2 separate regions of the Homo sapiens genome follow, and region 1 is linked to region 2. A link means that fine-mapping ties the variant in region 2 to the expression of a gene that starts in the linked region. Tissue or cell type: adrenal gland. Region 2 holds a variant in brackets; the other region holds the start of a gene. All regions are shown on one strand. Distances are from middle to middle.

Region 1 (5,110 bases), 500 kb before region 2:
CTTTCAAGAACTCAAGGTTATGAATATGATTAGAGATCACTAAAGCTTCACTGAGAGGCTGATAAAACAAAGGTGTAGATGTTAGTCAAAGATGATGGCTCTCAGACATCATTTAATACAGTAGTCCATGCAAGAGATGGTGATAATTTGGCCTAGAGCAAGAGTCTAAAAATTATTGCCCACAGGGCAAATCCTGCCTCTTGCCTGTTTTTGTAAATAAACTTTTATTGGAACATACCTACACGCATTCATTTATGTATTGTCTGTGAATTCTTTCACTCTATGAAAGCAGAATTTAATACCTGGAGACAAAGACTGTATGTGACTCAAAAAGCCTAAAATATTTACCAGCTGACCCTTCACAGATAAAAAAAAAAAGCCAAACTCTGGTCCGGAATGTTAGCAGTACAGTGAGGGACAAATGCATGAGCAGATTATATTTTGGAAGCAGAACAAGAACAAGTTTGGTGTGTTCTAGGAACAGCTGGTGTGGCGGGAACATAAAAAGACCCAGATACTATTGTTTTTTTCTATTTTGTTTTCTAGCACATTTGTACCTATTGCTTTTATTCAGCTATTCATTCATTCCAAAAATATTAAGAAGTTCCACTCTGTGCCATACACCATGTGACCTGCTACACACACACACACAGAGAGAGGAAACAGTAAAATATCTGACTTTTATTTTATTACAAGTAAAATTTATATTTTATTAAAAGTAAAATATCCAGGCTCCCTAGAGTCTGGAGCCAAATTACCTAGGTTTGAATCTCAGCTCTGAAATTTATCTGCCATGTGATCCTGGTGAAAATTGCTTAACCTATCTGTGCCTCAGTTGCCTTATCCTTAAAGTAGAAATAATATCATCTACCTTAAGTGTTTGATATAAAACAAACACTTAGCCCAGTGTTTAGCATATAGTGCACATTTTATAAATGTTGGTTACTATTATTAAGGAAACTTGCTTCTTTTACTGACTCAAACAAACAGGTATTGTCTATCAACCTGTTGCCTTTTCTGAGTACTTTGTGTTGATTTCAGCTTAGCTTTAAGTGAGCTCATTCACTCTAATTGCTACAGTTATGATCTTCCTGTTACAGGACATTGGATCATGCTGTTCTTTCTGCCCAAAACTTTTTTTGTTTTCCCATTTGCCTGGCCAACTCCAATTTGTTCTTTAAACATAAGGGCATAAGGGCATGGACTATATCTGGGCTTTGTTTATCATTTTACACCCAGATCTTAGTACAGTGCCTGGCATACAGTAGGCACTCATTAATGTTTATTGCATGAATGAATACCAGCCAGACTAAATCTAGATTCTCATTGTACTTAGTTTTTCCTCTTTATGTTACATTCACACTCTGGATATGTCCTTTTGTTTACACACTGGTTCTAGAAATTTTTTAACAAATATTTATTAAATATATAGACATTTTAGACTCTGTGCTTGGAGAACAAATATGAAAAACACAAGTTTTCTGCTCTCAAGAAGCTACTTATTCATTAGAGGACAAAGACATGCAGAAAGAGAAATTATAATCTAGAGTAAGTGGTACTCTTGAGGCCTGTACGAGATCCATTGGGCATACTGGACCTAGGGAAAAAAAATATACAAACTTATCTGGGAAAGACAGGGAAGGCTTCACAGAGGAGGTGCTATCTAAATTGAGTCAAAAATAACGAGTAGCCGTTTTCCAAATAAACAAGTGCCGGGTAAGAGCATTCATGGCAGAAGGAATTCCAGGGCAAAGATGTGGAGGCTTTTTCTTCTTTTGTTGATCCTGACTTCTACAAACCAATTCCTTTATTGCTTTTTTGACATTAGATTAACACTTTTAATCTCGAATAAATATAATACTGCACAATTTCCCATTTTCAGTATATATGCATTTGATTTTTTTTGTTGTTCTTACTCTCATTTTTTAAATCTGCCTTGGATTTCCATTGCATATACTATTTCAGTATACTTTTTGGTCCTTCTTTGTAATATGTATCGTTCTTAAATTTTTACCTGCATAAGGTGTTCATTCCTAATGGGTATTCCCTTCTAGTGCTCACTGTATGTAGCACTGTATCTGGACCCTGGGTTCAAGATGCTCAGCTGAATCGATGGGAGTAATGAGCGGTATATGACTTCCATAAACTCAAGAAAATGGTGGAAAGGTAGTAGAATTTTACTTCTAGTAAACCTGGATAAACTACCATAAATAGAAGCGTAGTGGGAGGACTCGGGAGGAGCACTGAAATGGCAGGCAGGGGACCCAGGTTTTATAGCTTTATGGGCCTGTTTTTTCTCATCCCTGCACCTATAGCTTCAAGTATGTTCACTAAAGGCGATTGAATAGAGTGCCCCGGCCCAGTCCTTCCGAATGGGAGACTGACGCCCTAGCACCGGGCGAAGTCCCGGGCGCCAGAGGCACCCACCCTGCACGGCCGGAAGGAGTGGGGCGGGGCCTACAGGCTCTCCGCTGGGCCCGAGCGGGCTGGGGGAGGGGAGCGTGGGGCCGACAGTTTTGGGGGTGAAAAGGCAAAAGGCGGGTGAAAGGCTGCCTCCCGAGACTCTCCTTGCTTGGAATTCTGCCCACTCTGCGGAGTTAGCAGTCACGACCTCCAGCACAGGTGGGTTCCGTCCCGTGGGTCAGGGAAGGGGTGTCCCCATGGGTGCTACGGGTGGGTTTACCCAGGCGCTCGCTTTCAGGCCTGTCGCAGTGGGCGGCGGAGGCTCTCACCCGGGCTGCTGGGCCCAAGGGCGGTGGTACTCACCTTAACCCTGGCGGAGAGGAAGGCCACTCCTGCCTTGCCGCAGGGTTGTCGTCACGATCTGTGCCAGTTGCGCGACAGAGTCTGCCCGGAGATCAGCGTGAGGCCGGATGGGCCTAGCGCTCAGGAAGAGCTGGAAGAGCTGGAGCAAGCTCGCGTTGGGACTGACGCCCAGTGTACATTGTTTCAATCTCGGTCGGACTTTACAGCCCTGGATCTGTCACTGACTTGGTGTTTAGCTTTCAGCGAGTCCCTACCCTCTTCCTGCCTCACTTTGTTCGGCAGTAGAGTGGAAGGTGGAACTCAGCTGTCTGCAAGATCTTGCAGCACTTTCTTTCGTTCTCATATCCACTAATGTTCTCTGCCCAGATTTTACCCTTTGTCTGCCCCCTCTGGAGCAAGGCTCTGGGTAAGTAAGTTAGGCTAGGAAGTTTTCTTTCTCTTCCGAAAACAATGGAAAAGCCTTTAAATACTCCTGACTGCCCTGGAAACGACATTCAAACCATTAATTGAATGTCAACTCTGAAGAATGGGTTTGTGAATGCCATACTATTAAACGTTTTAACCAGATGATTGCCTAAAATGATGTGTGTTGAGTGGACATAGTACACTGCCTAGCAAAAGTCTCATGATAAATGAGTTGCGTGCTTTAACTCAGTCGCTGAAAGAAAAACTTGAGCTCTCATATTTAAGAAACACTTTCATAATCCACTCCCATACAGTAGTAGTCTTTTAGAGTTGCTTGTAGCTTGGTTTGCCCTTTCAGGACACACTGTAGTAAAAATTACATACAGTTTATTTTACATTAACTATAAAGACAAAGAAGGACTATAAACATTATGGATCAACATTTTGGTGTCAACTTCTGGTTTCTCCTCATTAAGGAACTGGTGGTAATGATAATGGTGAACATATATTTTGCAAAATACTATAATTTTCACAACAACCAGAAGACGTTAAGTAAGGTTATTTATAATAAGGCTTAAAAAACTTATACTTTATCTCATAACCAGTGTGATGAAGGGAATGTTTACTGGGGTGGTTGAGTCTGGGGGCTTGTTTAGTGTGCCCCACCTAGTTCTTTATTTCTTGGAAGCTTGGACTGGAACAGATCACTTCCTTGTTTTGGCCTCTGTTTCAGGAACCACCATTTGTTCTGTATTTCTGCTTGTCAACCCTGGGAACAACAGTAAAACCAGCCAAGTGGATCACTGGGTGTTTACAATGTTTCTGACAGCTGTATCTGATGCCTCCAGGGGCTGGGAGGGGGACCCCAGGATTAACAAACCTCTTTGGTGGGAAGAGTCTCTTCCTGCAAACTGAACACGGATCCATCAGTTGGGCACCACTGTGATCCCCTTTCTATAATACCAAGCATCCCCTGGGCTCATATGGGCTGTACATGCACCTGCCATTGCCCTGTGTAAAGATTTACAGGATAAGAGGCTCTTGAAAAAACCCAGCCTGCTCCATACCTGTAGGTTCTAGGGAAGGAGTGGCTGATATGTAGGTGAGTGTTCTTCTGGATGAGGAAAATACCTCATGATTTCCCAAATGGTTTGAAAGGTGAGAAAAAAATTATGCTGGATATCTGCTGAGCCAACCTGAAGGGTGAGTTTTGCATTGGCTATTTGGCAGGACCTGGTGTCTGCCTTGTTTAGCTATATTTTCACTCTATTCATCATACTCTGTTCATTCACTCCAAAGGCAATCAATGAATGTCAACTCTGTGCCAGGATGCTGATCCATTCACTGAGATTGGCAGCACAGGACAGCCAGTTCGGGAGGACAACAGGAATTCAACTTTAAGCATACTCAGTCTGAGGCCTCCTCACCTTTCCCCACTCCCTATATCTAACTGCTACAAAATCTTGTCACTTCTACATCCTGAATATTTTAAAAAATCCATCCACTTCTCTTTGTCCCATGACTACTCCAAATTTCAAGCCAGCAATATTCTTTTTTAATTGATTTAAAAATTTTTATTTTAAAAGACCAAATGGTTGCATGACCCTCGACTCTCATGGGAAAACCACAACCCACCACCACCACAGCAACAACAACAAACAGCCTAATGACCTCTGTATGATCCCTAATAAATTGTCAAAGTAAGGAGATGAAAGTTCTCTTTTTTTCTTGATGCTCACAGTGTTTAAATATTGTATTTAGGATAATTTACATGCCATAAAATTTGCATATTTAAAGTGATTTTATAAATTTATTGGGTGGTGCAACCATCACTACAATCTAATTTTAAAACATTTGCATCACGTCAGTGACATCTTCCTTGCCCATCTGCAGTCAGTCTTCATTACTACTCCCAGCATCAGACAACCACTAATCTACT
Region 2 (5,000 bases):
TTCTTTTTATCTTCTATTTCTTATATGATACTTTTTCTTTTTAAATATTTGTTGCAACATTTTTGTGACTGATAGCTTGAGCATTTTCATAATGGCAGCTTTTAAAGTCTTGTCAGATATTTCCAACATAAGTGTCATCTTGCCTTTTGTATCTGTTGATTATCTTCTCCCATACAAGATGAGATTTCTGTGGTTCTTAATATGTTAAATAACTTTGGTTTATGTCCTGGTTATTTTGGATATTAAGTTATGAGACTTTGGATCTTGTTTATATCCCCACTTCTGTGGTATTTTGAGTTTTGGGGCCCTTCTCCAATCTGCCTGTTATTTACATTCCAGAGTTCACAAATAGCTAGGCTTGGCATTCTTTCCAGAGTATATAGTTGAGTTCAGTGAGATATAGGGGCAGCATGTGTTGATTTCATCTTATGAAATATTTCTAAATAACACCTACATCAAAGTAAATCACAAGGGTAATAATATCACAAGGGAAATACTTTGAACTGAAGGATAGTAAATAAAAATTATGGATGTACCCAAAGCAGTGCTTAAAGGGACATTTATGGCTCTTTTGAAAAGACTGATATCATTAATAAACCCCCACCAAGACTGATCAAGGTAAAAACAGAGAACACAAAAATTACTAATGTAAGGAATGAAAAAAGAGAAATCACTTCGGATCCTACAAACTTTAAAAGAATAATAAGAAGATATTGTGAACAATGTAAACTAAAGTTCTAGGATAAATTCCTAGAAAAGCACAACTTGCCAAAACTAAAACGATACAGAAAATCAGAATAATCCTACATATTTTAAAGAAACTGAACCTATAATTTAAAACTTTACACAAAGAAAACTCCACACTGACATTGCTAATCTGTTACATTCTATCAAACATTTAAAGAAAAAACCCAAACTTACACAAACCATTTCAGAAAATCGAGATATGGGAACATTTTCTACTTTGTACTATGCAGCCAGCAAAACCATGATATCAAAATCTAGCAAAGGTGTTTAAAGAAAAGAAAATTATGGATCAATCTTATTTATGAAAAAGATATATAATTCCTAAAAAGATTAGCCTAGTGAATACACTAAAGAGATAATATACAGTGACTAAGGAATGCAAAGCTGGGTTAAGATTCAGAAATCAGTTCATGCGACTTACCACATTAAGGCAAATAATCATATGATTATCTTAATAAATGCAGAAGGAGCATTTGATAAAATTCAACATTCAATCATAAAAAAGAGGCTTAGAATACTAGAAATACAAGGGAACTTCCTTAATATGATAGAGGCTAACTACAGAAAAGCTAAATTAAACACCAGAGATAATTGGGAAATTTTAAAGCATTCTCTTTTACATTTTATTCATAAATTTTACTGGAAGACTGAGACAGTATAATAAGGCATGAAAGAGAAATAAAAAGGTGTAAAGATTGGAAAGGGTGAAATTAAATTGCCCTTGTTTATGGAAGACATGACTGTTTACATAGAAAATCCCAAGGAAATAAAATCTGCAGATAAATCATTAGGATTAATAAGTACATTTATATCCATAAGGCTGCTGGATATAAAGCCAATATACATATATCAATTTGCTATCTAAATAACCGGTACCAACTGGAAAATTATGAAAAGATACCAATTACAATAACATAAAACACCAAATTCCCAAGAATAATTTAAATGAAAGATGTGTGCAATCTTTTCAGATGTTTCACAGAAAAATACAAAAGATAGAGAAATTAAAATCTAAATAAATGGAGGGATACATCAAATTGATGAATGGATTCAATTCTATCCCAGTCAAATTTCAGCTGACATGTTTCAGCAAGTTTTCTTGTGGAAATCAACAAACCGATTTTAAAATTTATATGGGGCTACAAAGGGCGAAGAATAGCCAAGACAGTCTTGAAGAATAACAACAAAGGGGAGAACTAATGTTACC[G/A]CATATCATCAAGACTTATTATAAAGCTACAGCAACTAAGTGTGTTACTGACACAAGGATAGACACATAGACAAAACAGAATTCGCCTAGAGTCCAGAAACATAATCATATATATAGGGACGACTGATTTAAGGCAAAGTGGCAAGGCAGCAATAAATGGTGCCAGGTCAATTGGATACACACGTGGGAAAAAGGGAATGTCAACTCACATCCCACATCATATCCTAAAGTTAACACTAAGTAGATTGTAGATTTAAGCACGAATGGTGAAATAATAAAGCATCTCTTCCAGATAGGGAAAGATGTCTTAAATAGTGTAGGACACTAAAAAGCACTAGATCGAAAAGATAAAAAGATAATTTGGACTATTATATTAAATAAACAACTTAGGCTCATCAAATGATACCATTAAGATAGTGAAAACCAGGTCAGGGTGAGAGAGTAGATACTTGGAATAGGTATAGCTGACAGCTTGTATCCAGAACATACTGGAATTCTTTTGAAGTACTAAGAAAGTTAAAGAAAAATGAATATGACTTATACATGAGGGGATATCCAAAAAGCCTATAAACATTTGAAAAGGTGTTCAACCTAATTAGTCACTGGGGAAATCCAAATTAAAACCACAATAAGATACTACTGCACACTCACCAGAACTGCAAAAAATGAAAAAGTCAGAAAATACTAATTGTCAGTGAAGCTGTTAAGCTGTGAAAACCTTCATACACTGTTGGCAAGGATGTGAATTTGGAAACTATTCTACTAAAGTGATAACCCAGCAATTCCACTTCTGTGTACATACTGAAAAGATATGCATTCACATGGGCAAAAAGAGGCTTATGTAAGGATTATTTTCATAGCAGCTTTATTCATAAGAGCCCCAAATTGGAAACAACCCAAATGCCTAACAATAGAACATATAAGTAAATTGTGGTAATTTCCAACAATGAAATATTACACAGCAATAAAAAAGAACTACCATAACAGAGTGAAAGAAGCCATACACAAAGTTGTACTTACCGTATTTTCCCATTTATATAAAATTCAAAAACAGACAAAATTAATCTGTGTTGTTAGAGATTAGGATAATGGTTACCTTTGGGAAAAAAACAAGGGCATAACAATTGAGAGGAGTCACAAAGGAGGCTTCTGGAGGGCTGGTAAGGTTCTATTTCTTGATATGTAGTACAGTTTCACAGGCGTTCACCTTGTAAAAATTCATGGAGCTGATCTGGGTTGTGGTTGCATAGGTGTTTTCATTTTGTGAAAATTGATTGAGCTGGACACTTGTAATTTGTGTACTTTTCTGTATGTTACACTTCAATTGAAAAGCTAAGACCAACCAACCAAACTAAGTTTATGACAAAGAAGCTCTAGAGTATGCTAGAGCTCACAGGTCAGAATGTATGCATTAAAATAGTAGTTTTGAAATCTACAGCTGAAGGGACACTAAACAAATATTTACTGAACACCATGGGAACAGTAATAAAAAAGCATACCTTCTTTCAAGGATCTTACAATGTTAGTGGAAAAACAAAATATTAAAATATAATGTTATAAGTATTACAAAAAGGAAGTATATGATTTTATTAAGTTTCCAGGAGGAATGCTTAACTGGGATGGTATTGGGGGTTGAGAATTATCAGAGAAGGATTCCTAAATTTGATCTTCATCTTCAAAAATGACTAGACATTGGCCAGGTGGTATAAGGAAAAAGGAAACTGTAGGCAGAGTGAGCATATGACAGAGAGAGAACATGGCTGGAGAAATAAGCAAACCATGAAGGGCTGCAGGTTTGGGGCTTTATTCTGAGGGCATTAGGGAGCAGGATCATTTTAGAATAGCTACACCATGATACCAAATTGAAAGGAAGTAAAATGGGTGAGTGCTAAAATTAAAGAACTTTTAAAAAAAAAAATAAATAAAAATACTACTTAGCATCTATGGGATATATTTAAAGCAAAGATCAGTGGAAAATTCACAGCCTTAAGCATTTATATCAATAATAATGAAAGACAAAAAATATACTCATTAAATTCCAAACTCCAAATGCTAAGATAAGCACAACAAAATGACCAAAATGAAACATAAGGAAGGAAATAATAAACATAAAAGAAAAAGTAGTAAGGTTGGGAATAGAAAAAAAATAACTAAATAAAAATCAGTGTTTCAAGGAAAAATAACAAAATTGACACACCACTGGCTAACATAACCAAGGGAAAAAAGAAATAGCACAAATATACAAAATATGAAATGACAAGGGGGAGATAACTATTGAAATACAAGAGATTTAAAATATGACAGACTATCTGGCAGAGAGATCTCTGTGTAAATAAATTTGCAAACCATAAAAAATGAATAATTTCTTAGGAAACTGTACCAAAATTGACCCCATTACAGAAAGAAAGCATAAACAGATAAATTCCCAGAGGAGAAACACAAAAAGGCCTAGTTGATTTCATAGAGGAATTGTCAAAGAACTGATTGTCTCACTGCTACTTACATTTCTGTCACAGCCTAGACAGTGAAAGAAAACTCCAAACAATTCTTCTGAAGCAAGTGTAATATATATACCTAAACCTGATAAAGACAGTACAAAAAAAGAATATTTCTGATAGCACTTATGATTTTTCCTGAATACAGAATCTTTCTTAATGAAGAAATGCTACAGGAATTTCCATAAGGATCAGAAACAAAACAAGATCATCTACTATTTCCACTACTATTTAATGTTCTAAAGAAGATATTAGGCAATGCAGTTATATTTAAGGAATCAATTAGAGGTTTAGGAATTGGGAAATAAGTAAAAGTATTTGCAGATGGAGTGTGATACTTATCTGGAAAGCTCTAGAGAAATAAAGGTATAATTAACTCAAAGAACAAAAGAATTCAGGAAGATAAAAATTTACATACAGAAATAGTAGCCTTCAAATATACAAGCAAAAAACAGAGGATGTAATAGAAAAAAAACATTAACAAAGCAAAAAAGAAGTTAAATGCTTAAGAATAAATTTCAGTATGACATATACAAAACCTATATGAGAAA

What was found. PIP is the estimated chance that this variant, and not a neighbour inherited with it, causes the effect.
Region 1: TMLHE starts here. The variant in region 2 is fine-mapped to the expression of TMLHE in adrenal gland (GTEx, PIP 0.96).

What each region holds. Positions count from the first base shown.
Region 1 is chrX:155,610,304-155,615,413 of GRCh38, reverse strand. TMLHE (trimethyllysine hydroxylase, epsilon) reads left to right here and starts at 2,462. Exons shown (of 8, transcript NM_018196.4): 1 at 2,462-2,622. It overlaps SPRY3 (sprouty RTK signaling antagonist 3), which reads right to left and starts at 2,828. Exons shown (of 3, transcript NM_001304990.2): 1 at 2,767-2,828.
Region 2 is chrX:155,106,193-155,111,192 of GRCh38, reverse strand. All of the region lies in intron 7 of BRCC3 (BRCA1/BRCA2-containing complex subunit 3), which reads right to left. Among named protein-coding and RNA genes, the nearest start is that of BRCC3, 37 kb to the right of the region's middle. The variant G/A (reference allele first, on the strand shown) is at 1,955.